Homo sapiens: one gene and its partners. The protein of the gene in region 1 purifies or fractionates together with the protein of each later gene. This does not show direct contact. Each region holds a gene or a part of one and is shown on either strand. Other genes may lie near its edges.

Region 1 (3,748 bases):
GTGCACAACTGTGGTCCCAGCTACAGAGGAGGTGGGGGCAGGAGGATCACTTGAGCTCAGGAGGTCGACGCTGCATTCCAGCCTGGGTGATGGAGCTAGACCTTGTCTCTATTTATTTATTTATTTATGGAGATGGAGTTTCGCTCTTGTCACCCAGGCTGGAGTGCAATGGCATGATCTCGGCTCATTGCAACCTCCACCTCCAGGGTTCAAGTGATTCTCTTGCCTCAGCCTCCCAGGTAGCTGGGATTACAGGCGCCCGCCACCACGCCCGGCTAATTTTTTTATTTTTAGTAGAGATGGGGTTTCACCATATTGGCCAGGCTGGTCTCAAACTCCTGACCTCAGGTGATCCCCCCACCTCGGCCTCCCAAAGTGCTGGGATTACAGGCATGAGCCATCGCGCCCAGCCCTGTCTCAAATTTAAAAACACAACCAGAAAGGCAGGGCGCGGTGGCTCACGCCTGTAATCCTAGCACTTTGGGAGGCCGAGGCGGACGGATCACGAGATCAGGAGATCGAGACCATCCTGGCTAACACGGTGAAACCACGTCTCTACTAAAAAAAAAAAAAAAATACAAAAAAATTAGCTGGGCATTATGGCGGGCGCCTGTAGTCCCAGCCACTCGGGAGGCTGAGGCAGGAGAATGGCGTGAACCCGGGAGGCAGAGCTTGCAGTGAGCCGAGATCGCGCCACTGCACTCCAGCCTGGGCGACAGAGCGAGACTCTGGCTCAAAAAACAAAAACAGAAAGAAGAGGAAAGGACACAGATCACAGTCACAGAGAAAAAAAGGTCACCTGAAGAGGGATATGCGGAGGGAAAGTAGAGGCTGGAGTGATGCTGCTACAAAGAATCCTTGACCAAAGAACGCCAGAGATTGCCAGGAACCACCAGTGGCTGGAAGAGGCAAGGAAGGCTTCTCCCCAGAGCCACTGGAGGGGGCATTGCCCTGCTGGCCCATGGATTTTGGAGTTAGCCTCCAGAAATGTGCAAGAATACATTTCTGTGTGTTAAGCCACTGAGTCTGTGGCTGTTACCACAGCCCTGAGAAACTCACACAACCTACACCTGGAAGCTGGATTCCTTCAGCTTCTGTGTTCTGATTCCAAAGCCTGGGGGAAAGCAGGATGGGCCTAGCTGGGGTCAGATGTCCGCCCCACAGAACCCAAAAGCCACTAAAGCTAAGGGCAGGAAATAGATGTGGGTTTCGGAGCTGCCCCTTCCAGTATCCTTGATAACCATCACCCTATCCAAAAGGCATTAATTCATATCTCAAGGTCAATTTGGAGGGAGGTCTCTCCAAGCAAGCCCCAGAGTTCTGTACACCTATCAGCTCCTGGGGCAAAGACACAGACGGCTGTAGCCACCGGTGTGGATGAGACAAGGCCAGGAAAGTACCGCTCTGATGACAGAATCAGAAGGACTCTGTGCAGGTTAGAGAGTTAGCAAGGTGATACTGAATGAGGACGACGATAAAACCCAACTCTTGGGTTCCAAGAGTCAACTTCACAAGCAAAATGTGGACGACGCCTGGCTTCACCGCGGCAGTGCCTTGTGAGAAAGACCTGAGGATTTTCTCTGACCAGCCGGCTTAGAGCTTCAGTTGCACGAAAAGCACAGCACTTTTGGCTGGGCTGGGGCGGTGATAGGCCTTTCGGGCTCGGTGCAACCCATACCTAAGACAGAGAGGCAACACAGGCGCCTCCAGAGAACCAGAGGTGCAACCGGGCCACCAGGCTACGTGGCAGAGGTTGCGGGGTAAGGGGGAGGTGGGATGCCTGGGGAGAGGTCAGCGGAGTTATCAAACTAAGGTTCCCGGGCAATGATGGGGCCAGGAGGCAGAGCGAGCAAACGGGGATGATCTGGGGTCTATTCCAAAGAGGTGGCGGGGGAGGTGGTGCTGCTGTGCCCCCAGTCACGGCCATCTCGGCTCCAGAGCCCTGGAGAGCAGTTCCCGGGTTCACACGGACTCTGAAGACAAGCGTATCCTGAGGGTGGACGACTCCTGGAAAGTCCACGCCCAGGCTGGCCTCAGGGGTCCGCTTCTCTGCGTCTCGCCCCGTGCCCGCAGGCGACAGAGTGGCTGGTGTGCTCGGGGGGCCTCCCAGGGCGCGGCGGCCTGCGCCCCTGCCACCTGGGGCTGCTCCCTTTGGAACCTCCTGTTCGCAGGCGGCTCCTCGGCCGTCCGCTCGGAGCTGGGGCGAGGGGCTGGCGGCGGCGAGCGGCGCGGCCCCAAGTTTATGCTAATCCGCAAAGAGCCCGCCTCCCGCCTCCCCTCCGCGGCCCCAGCCGCTAGCAGCGCCGGCCACTCCGCGGGACGCAGCCGCCGCGAAGCGCCAGGCGGCCGGGCCAGCGAGCTCGGGGGCCGAAGGGGACCCCGGGACCCTCGGGGCGGGACCCGGGCCGACCAGCGGCGGGGGCGGCGCGGCGCTGCAGGCGGACACCCGGCGGGGGGCACCGCGCGGGGCCGGGCAGAGGCGCGGGGGCCGCTATGGGCCGCCGCCGCCTGCTCGTCTGGCTGTGCGCCGTCGCGGCGCTGCTCTCGGGGGCGCAGGCCAGGGGCACCCCGCTCCTGGCGCGGCCTGCGCCGCCCGGTGCCTCCCGCTACAGTCTCTACACGACGGGATGGCGCCCGCGGCTGCGCCCGGGGCCGCACAAGTAAGCGCGGGCGGGCGGCGGGCGGGAAGAGGGAGGGATGGGCCCGCGCGCGTCGCCGCTCCCACCTGCCCGCACCCGCGGGGGGCGTCGAGGCCCCGGGCACCCCGAGGCCGCTGCACAGAGGGGGCGGCGCCCGGGGCCGAGCCCCTGCCCAGGCGAGCGCCCTACGCTCCGGGAGGTTGCGGGGCTGGCGAGGAAAAAGGAACCGAGGGGGCCTGGCGCGGCGGCTTGGGATCCTGGCAGTGCCAGCGGAAACCTTTCCAGCGAAGTAACATTTTCCAGCTGCGCTGTGTGCAGACTCCGGGCGAGCGGACCAGGTGGAGGGAGAGGAGGAAAGGCGGTCCGCGCGCTGAGCACGCGGGGCTCCCCCGCCCCGGGCCTCCCTTCTCTCCCCTGGCCCGGCCAGGTAGGAGATAGAGCTGCGCATCCGGGCGGCCGCTGCCCTCTCGCAGTCAGCCTGGCCCCAGCAACCCCATGGGAGCCCCAGCGTGGCCGGGCTGCAGAGCCAGAGCGGGCTCCTGGCTCCGGGCCTGTGCTGTGGCACAGCCGTCCACAGCGGTCGGCTTATGCCAGGCAGCCACCTCCTCAGCCCTTGTGGCTCATCAAGGAGCCTGCTTTCCCCGCCTCAGCTTCTGGTGTTTCGTGGGCAGTGGCTTGCGAACTGGCCTCAGTTAAGTGGGCTGGAGGCTCTGCCTGGGGTGCTGGCTGAACTTGAATTCTAGCTGAATTTGAGAGCTGTTGTAGGAGGAAGAGTACCGACACTCAGTGGGCCTGGGTACATCACAGCGAGCCTCCTGGAGGAGGTGGTACAAGAACTGCTCTGAGAGTAAGGGAACAGGACCAAAGGCAGGGGCTGCAAAACTACGAGGAGAGGTGGATTTCCCCGGGAGCCAGGCAGGGAGGAAGGACAAGACATGGTGCTCTCAAAGGAGTCACTGAGTGGGGACTCGGAAGCCTTAAATGCCAAGATAAGGAGTTTGGAATCAGCGAAGGATGGGGGGGTGTGGCAGGGCACTTGAGGGAGAATCCGGGCTGGCCTCTTCCCCACGCAGGGAGGGGCAGCCACATCAGGCTCCTGGTTCCAAATA
Region 2 (3,748 bases), on another chromosome or scaffold:
AAAATATCATATGTTAAAAACTTATTAAGGACAATAAAGGTTGCAGTGTACCAGTTAACGTAATCTCAAAAATCCACGTACTTCACCTTTGGCACTTTCAAAAAGTTGGACAAAAACCACTGAAATAATCACATTCTCCCTTCTGCATTTTTCTTCCTCATTGTTATGCTTCCCAAACAGCCACATTTTAATCAAGTTACCCAAGATTTTTGCAACTTCACCATAGCAAAGGAGGGGGGGAGAAACTTTACGCACATACAGTAACACCCTTAACTCCAGGCAAAACGCTCATTCACAGTAGACTGGTAGAACAGCGCCAGCTAAGGAAGCTCTATTAACTTACACAGTCCAGTCAGTCAAGGACTGTCTACTCCTCCAGCCACACTTCTTTGTTGATAATGTGCAAAAATCTAGGGGAAGATTACCAGGGTTGCAGCTGGATGGGAAACGGTTTAAAAAAAAAAAACAAAAACGATGGGGGATGACTGTTCTTATAAGAATGATAAAGCAAACACAAGTAAAATGTGAATCCTTCCTTCCTCTGGGCCAAGGATGGAGGTCAGGGATAAAATCTACCAGTCTGGCCGGAGAAAAGGCTGCTAGAGAGAAATTCCTTCCAAGACAGGAAAGGGATAAAGAGTAGAGTGCTTCGGTGCTGGTGGGTGTCTGCCCACAGGTCCGGCCTCCAGTTTCAGCTGACAGACAAAAGGAACTCCGGGATTCCCAGCGCCGGGCACCACCTTGGGTTGGAACCGCCCAGAGGAGCCACAGGGGAGCCACCTCAGAGAGGCCACGAGCGAAGGTGCAGCCTCCACACCGAGGTCTGCCCTTCCAGAGGCTGGGAGCGCCTCTGCACCCCGCCCCGCACCGAGATTGGGGTGTGTCTTTTGAAGGGGGAGGGGGTGACTGAGGTCCTTGCCAATCCCAGACGAGGGGTCGCCTCCCGGTCGGCTTCCGCCTCTGCGCTCCCGCCCCATGCCCCGCTCCCGCTCCCACCCGGCCGACGGCGGTGCGAGGGAAGAGGGCAAATCTGGGGCTCGAGGCCGGAGAGGGTGGGTGGTTGGGTCAGGTCCAAGCCACGGCCTCGGCCTCCCAGCTTCCAACCCGAGGGAGGGGCCTCGCTTCCACCGCCGCCGCCGCCCCCCGGTTACCTCGGCCCCAGCCGCCGCCGTGGCCGCCGCTGCCGCTGTTAGGGACTCTCAGTCTCAGACACTTGCTTCGCTGAGAAGTCGCTGCCAGCAGCGCTCCCAAGACTCCACTCCAACTGCAGCCGCCTCCTCCGCCGGGCCCGGGGCACGCTCCCAGCTCCGGATCCTCCTCTTGGCCCCCGGCGGCTGCCAGTTCCAGCTTTCCCAGCAGAATCGGTCGTGCTCGCCCCAGCCCCCACCGGCCAACCGCCGCCGCCGCCGCCGTCAGGGCAGTAACTGTCTCAGGCAGCCCCCGGCCGGCCGGCTCCGCCCCGCCCGCCCAGCCCAGACCCCGCCCCCGCCCCCGCCCCCGCCCCGCCGCTCGGCCTTTCTTTGCCCGCCGGCTCCGCCTCCGCGTCCTTCCCCTCCCCCACCGCGCTCTCCCGCAGCATCCCGTGCCTGGGCGTGTGCGGCCGCCTGGGACCCGCTGCCGGCGCGGCGGGGAGACCTGTCTCGGGGCGGCGTGGGGGCCCCGCCTTTCTCAGGGGAGGCGGAGAACGGGGCGGGGGCTGCGTTCTCACGTCTCCGAGCTCACGCGAGTCGTTGCCCCCACCCTCCCCGTCACCACTGGGCCCTGATCCTTCCTTTGTCTTCCAGGCCGGAGGGACTCGCCGGCTGTTGGTGCCGTATCTGCTCCTGGGAGGGGCAGTTGGGTAGGGGGAGATTGCCTCTTGCCTCTCTCTGCTCAACCCTTTTGCCTCTCCCTTAACCCCGTTGCTTCCAAAGCCACTTCGGGCCCCGTTCTACCCCTCAGTCGTCCGGTCTCCTTTCAGTCCATTAAATTCCAGGGATGCTTTTACTTTGGCTGGGACGAAGAGAAGGAAGGAAAAGACTGGGAAGAATGTTGCGAAAATAGAAATAGTGGGGGTATACAGCGACATTCCTACCAGCCTCATGAAAAGGACGTGGCCTCCATCAGATGGAGGTTGACAGCAGGCTTGACTGGGTCTCAGGCCCCTGCTCCTCAGGGCCACTTGATCACCCGCAGCGTCCACTAGGGGGGAAGGTCTTGGTCATGTGGCGTCAGGAAATGCCCTAGAGGGCCTGCTCACAGGGGCCTGTTGGACTAAGCATGTCAGTTGTTTGCACTTACTGGACCTGAGTTGCTTAGATTCCAAATTTCTCCCGGGAAAATAAGTATACCGTCAACTGATGGAATAGGAAATGTAGCATTTTTTATTTTAATTGTTTATGCTAAAATCCAGAGTGCTCTATTTCCCATTCCTCATTAACTTGCATGTGGTTATTTGCCAAAATATTAAGCCAGTCTCCCATCTAGTTTTAGAAATTTCATAGTATAGCTATCACAATAAGAAAGATGGATAAACAAATAGATCGTGTTTGTGCTTACTCTTTCATATTGTTTATTCGTGCCAATTGAGGTTTACTGATCTTAGTATTTAATTTTAATTCATGTACCCTGAATTTTGGGCTTCTTTCCTAAAACACAAGCAAAAGAGGCAGAGTATAAATTCTCCAGAATTAGGGGGATGAAAATTGATTTTTAAAAAGCTACAATTTTTATTTATTTTTGCCTAAGCTGTTTTAATTCCCACTTAGCTTGTTTGCCACGCAGCTTTATAGTCATTGAACAGGTTGACTCCTTCAGTTTCATGGTTGTAAAATTTTATGTTTAGAGGAAAATTTAAATGAGAAATAATGTATATCACATTATCATTTCTATTAAGCCGTTTGCTAACACAATAATTAAAATAATTTCTGCCCAGTAGAGAAGTTACCGAAACTTTTTGTTTAGTGGGCCTCATTTATGATAACTAAGCAGTATCATGGAATGCTGTTTTAAATAACATCAGCTGTAACTAAGCTGTAATTAATCTTCAGACCTATTTAGAATTTTGTTTTTTGCTTTAAAATTTATTTCACATTTTATTTTTATTGCTTTTTGCTTTTTTTAATAGAAAACCCTTAACAGTGACGTATATGTATATATACACACATATATAATTTTATGAAACTTCTTTTTATCAATTACCTAAATGTTAAACGTGGCATAAGCAGAATACTTACTCTTGGTACATATTCACATACTTTAATCAGTTTCTTAGTTGTATTTTCTCCAATACCAGATACTCGCATTTTTCCAAAGAATGCAATTTTTTTCAATGTGGCCTTTCTTATTTTTAATTTGTTCATAAAATTTCCTGAAATCATCACAGTTTCACATAAATTTGAAATTACTGACAGCTTTAACGAATGCTTCTCTGAAGACTATAATGTTTTAAATGGAAAATTAAGTGGTGAGATACGTATTAAGCTCAAAACACACTCTGCTAAATAAAATATATTCTCCATTCTAATTTCTCTATATTGAAATGTACAAATTTTTCAGTTCAAATCTTTTCCTAGCTGTTGTATTTTTTTAAACCTCACTCAGTTATATTGTGCAACAAGTGTTTTTACAAAACAAAGCTCATTATATAAGTCTTGAAAATGTACGTTTATTTTGATGGTATCAATCAAGTTTAAATACTACAAAATTATGTCATCTCAATTTTAATCCATTTAGATACAAAATATAGTTTCATCCAATTAAAAGCAAC
Region 3 (3,748 bases), on another chromosome or scaffold:
TAAACAGTTGTAGTTGATAATCACTTACAGGAAAAGTTCTGACTGGCTCTAGACAAAAACAAAAATATTAAAGCCTCTTAGAAGTCAGAGATGTTGCAGATTTTGGAATTCCATATTAAACTTAGAGGAGATGTGAGAAAGAGCAAGGTGTGCACTTGCTCTTTTCCACCCCCACCTGGCTGTATGCTGCTGCTCTTGCCACAGCAAAGTGTCAGAGAGCCAAGGTGGCAACTGTCAACCCCACGAAACTGTGTAGGAAACATTAACTCTGCAGTCAGAGATAATGTGATGACATAATTGTTACTTCTCTAGGTAATGGTAATTATACTATGCTGTAGAGAAGAATTTAAATTATAAGTTCAGTATTTTCACTGCTTTCCTTTTCTTCCCTTTTCTCTCCATGCTGTTTAATTTAGGATGAAGGAAGAAACCAAGCTTAAGGACCAGAATTTTAAAAGACCTGTTAATACATTATTTTAGGCTGTATCAGTATGGGTGGGGGTATTCTTGCTTTTCGCAGCTTATTACTGCAAGCAAACTAATGCTTTCTTGCTGGTGCTTTTTTTAGACATTCAGGTTTTGATGGGAAGCCTTGTGTACCTGAGACAAGGGATTGAGAACTCACCATATGTTCACCTACTTGATGCAAACCAGTGGGCTGATATCTGTGACATCTTTACACGGGATGCTTGTGCCCTCCTGGGGCTCTCCGTGGAGTCCCCTCTCAGTGTCAGGTATGGAAATTAGCCCTGTCTGTTATTGAAGTATGCACTGCATTATCACCTTCCCTTAACTTGTTTGGTTCTTGATGTTTAAAGCCAAAATAACTTTTGTCTTTCCAAAGAAGAGTGCAATTGGTATTTCAAAAGATATCACAATTGGCAGTGATGCTGTTTTAGAGAAGCAGTTTTGAAAGTGTGGTGTATGAACCTCACAGGATCCTGAGAGCCTTTTCCACTGTATTGACATTAGTACAGATGGTCCAGAAACAGTGGTGGACTAAACTGCTAGAGCCTTAGCACAAGTTGGGGCGGTGGTACAAACTCCACGAATAGCTGGATTCCTCACCACCACACACTTGCAGTTTAAGAAATGCTAGTTTTACTTAACCACGTCTGTAATCTCAGCATTTTAGGAGGCCTAGGAGGGTGGATCACGAGATCAGGAGTTTGAGACCAGCCTGGCCAACATAGTGAAACCCGCCTCTACTAAAAACACAAAAAATTAGCTGGACGTGGTGGCGGGTACCTTTAATCCCAGCTAGTCGGGAAGCCGAGGCAGAAGAATCGCTTGAACCCAGGAGGCGGAGGTTGCTGTGAGCCAAGATTGCACCATTGCACTCCAGCCCGTGCAACAATGCGAGACTGTCTCAAAAAAAAAAAAAAAAAAAAAGAAAAGAAAAAAAGAATATTCTTGGCCTGGTGTGGTGGCTCACATCTGTAATTCCAGCACTTTGGGAGGCTGAGGTGGGGGGAATCTCTTGAGGCCAGGAATTCAAGACCCACCCGGGTAACACAGCTAGACTCCATTTCTACAGAAAACTTTTTTAAAAAAGGATGTTCTTGGTGAAACATTAAAATTATTAGTTTTATTAAATCTTGACCTTTCAGTACACATCATCTTAATAATTTGTATGACAAAATAGGAAATCCACATAAAGCACTTCAGTTTCATGTCAAAGTATGGTAATTGTCTTGAGAAAAAGTATGTTGTTTTGAGTTATGAGCTAGCTGGTCACTTTTTTTCATGGAATACTTGTTTTGTTTGTTACTTGTTTTTTTCTTGCTTTTTTGAGATGGAGTCTCCCTCTGTCCCCTGGCTGGAGTGTAGTGGCGCAATCTCAGCTCACTGCAGCCTCCACCTCTTGGGTTCAAGCGATTCTCCTGCCTCAGCCTCTGGAGTAGCTGGGATTACAGGCGCCTGCCACCACGCCCAGCTAATTTTTGTATTTTTAGTAGAGACAAGGTTTCATCATGTTGGCCATGCTGGTCTCGAATTCCTGACCTCAGGCGATCCACTGCCTTGGCCTCCCAAGGTGCTGGGTTTATAGGCGTGAGCCACCGCACCAGCCTTGGAATAGTTTTTACTTGGAAGAATCATTAACATAGTTACGCACACTCAGGTTTTTGGCAGTCTTTTTTTTTTTTTTTTTTTTTGTCTTTTTTCTTAAATTTTTAAGACATTCTTGCTATGTTGTTCAGGTTGGACTCAAACTCCTGGGCTCAAGTGATTCTCCTGCCTCAGGCTCCTGAGTAGCTGGGAGTACAGTTGTGTGCCACATCACCCAGCCATTTTTTTAAGTGAACGAAGCAAGCCTGTCACATTTGAAAGGTCTTAATTAAGTATGATTTTACAAAAGCATGCATGAGTAAAAGAGTCATTCAAAGTACAAGACAGACAAATGGATTTTAATGTAGCAGGGTACAAAAAGTTTAATGGTAAAGTTTCAGATTCTGCTCTGCAGCGAACCTTTAGAAAACTACTACCTGTTTTGGCCAAAACTATGAAAAGTCAGTTTTCGTGTGGTATTAAGGAGGAGTATCCACAATGATCCAAAGTGATCAAAGTAGTACTACACATATGTGTGAAACAAGGTTTTTTTTCATTTACCTCAACCAGAAGAACGTATCACAATAGATTTAATGCAGAGTAAACTATAAGAATCCAGCTGTCTTTCTGTTAAGGTAGGCATTCAGGAGAGTTGTGAGAGTTTGGAACAGTGCCACTCTTCTCACACATATATTTTTGTTTTGGAAACTGTAGTTATTTTTTTATAAGAATGTTTGCAATAATGGCATGGTATTTTATTTTTACATGAACTAATCGGCACCTTTTATGTTTCTCATTTTAATTTCTAATGTATTAAAGATATAATCCACAAAAAGAAAAGCTCTTTGAGATCCTTAATACTTAAGCATATAAAGGGGTCCTGAAACCAAAACATTTTAAGAAACTGTTGTAAGAAAATAACTCTTTTTTAGCTCTTCTATTCATTTAATTCCACAAATGTTTTGCATACCTGCTATGTGCCAGGCACTGTGGGCACTGTGTTGGATATGAAGATGAATAAGGTGCATTCCACAGGGTGCTCCATCCTAGCGTAGGAGTGGACAGATGCAATTAGCTATAATGTGAGGCGCTGATGCCATCAAGTTCTCTGAGGAAGACTCTAAAGTGGGAATGTACATGCAGAAAGTTTACTGACATCAGCACCTGTGGGAGAATGAAAACAGCAGGATTGGGCAGAGAGGAAAGTTGGACTGTATTAGAGTGGCAACAAGGTGTCTCCCATCCGTGAGGAGCTCTGGAGCTGCTGTGGGCCCGTGGAGTTGTCCCAAATTGGGCCTATAGGGCTGGGGTTTTGTACCCTCACATGGAGCAATTGCTGGATGTGACTCTGGTCAGATGACTCTCTTCAACTGAGGACAGTCCTGAAGAGACGGACACAGCTGAGAGTTGGCTGCCAACACTTCCAGATCTGAGAAATGAGTGCTTCCACCCTGGACAGGGGTGATCTGGGGATAAGAGGAACTATGCAAAAAAAATGTTTCAGGAGCAAGCATGTCATTTGACTGATAAGCTGAGCCCATTAAATCCAGTTGTTTTGTGCAATATAAAACCTTTTTTGGCACTAATGTAAGATTATTATGAAATTCTTTATATTTTACTTTTTGAAACAGGGTCTCATTCTGTTGCCCAGGTTGGAGTGCAGTGGCACGATCGTGGCTCACTGCAGCCTCAACCTCCT

What was found.
Region 2: the proteins of EMILIN3 (region 1) and ANKRD50 purify together in Homo sapiens (co-immunoprecipitation; 2 studies listed by BioGRID and IntAct, with this or other methods). This does not show direct contact.
Region 3: the proteins of EMILIN3 (region 1) and RMND5A purify together in Homo sapiens (co-immunoprecipitation; 2 studies listed by BioGRID and IntAct, with this or other methods). This does not show direct contact.

What each region holds. Positions count from the first base shown.
Region 1 is NC_000020.11:41,365,380-41,369,127, reverse strand, and holds the start of EMILIN3 (EMILIN-3 precursor), read left to right. Parts: upstream 1-2,309; 5' UTR 2,310-2,493; coding exon 2,494-2,660; intron 2,661-3,748.
Region 2 is NC_000004.12:124,711,307-124,715,054, forward strand, and holds the start of ANKRD50 (ankyrin repeat domain-containing protein 50), read right to left. Parts: upstream 1,427-3,748; 5' UTR 1,152-1,426; exon of another isoform or gene 1-1,151.
Region 3 is NC_000002.12:86,765,291-86,769,038, forward strand, and holds part of RMND5A (E3 ubiquitin-protein transferase RMND5A), read left to right. Parts: intron 1-568; coding exon 569-734; intron 735-3,748.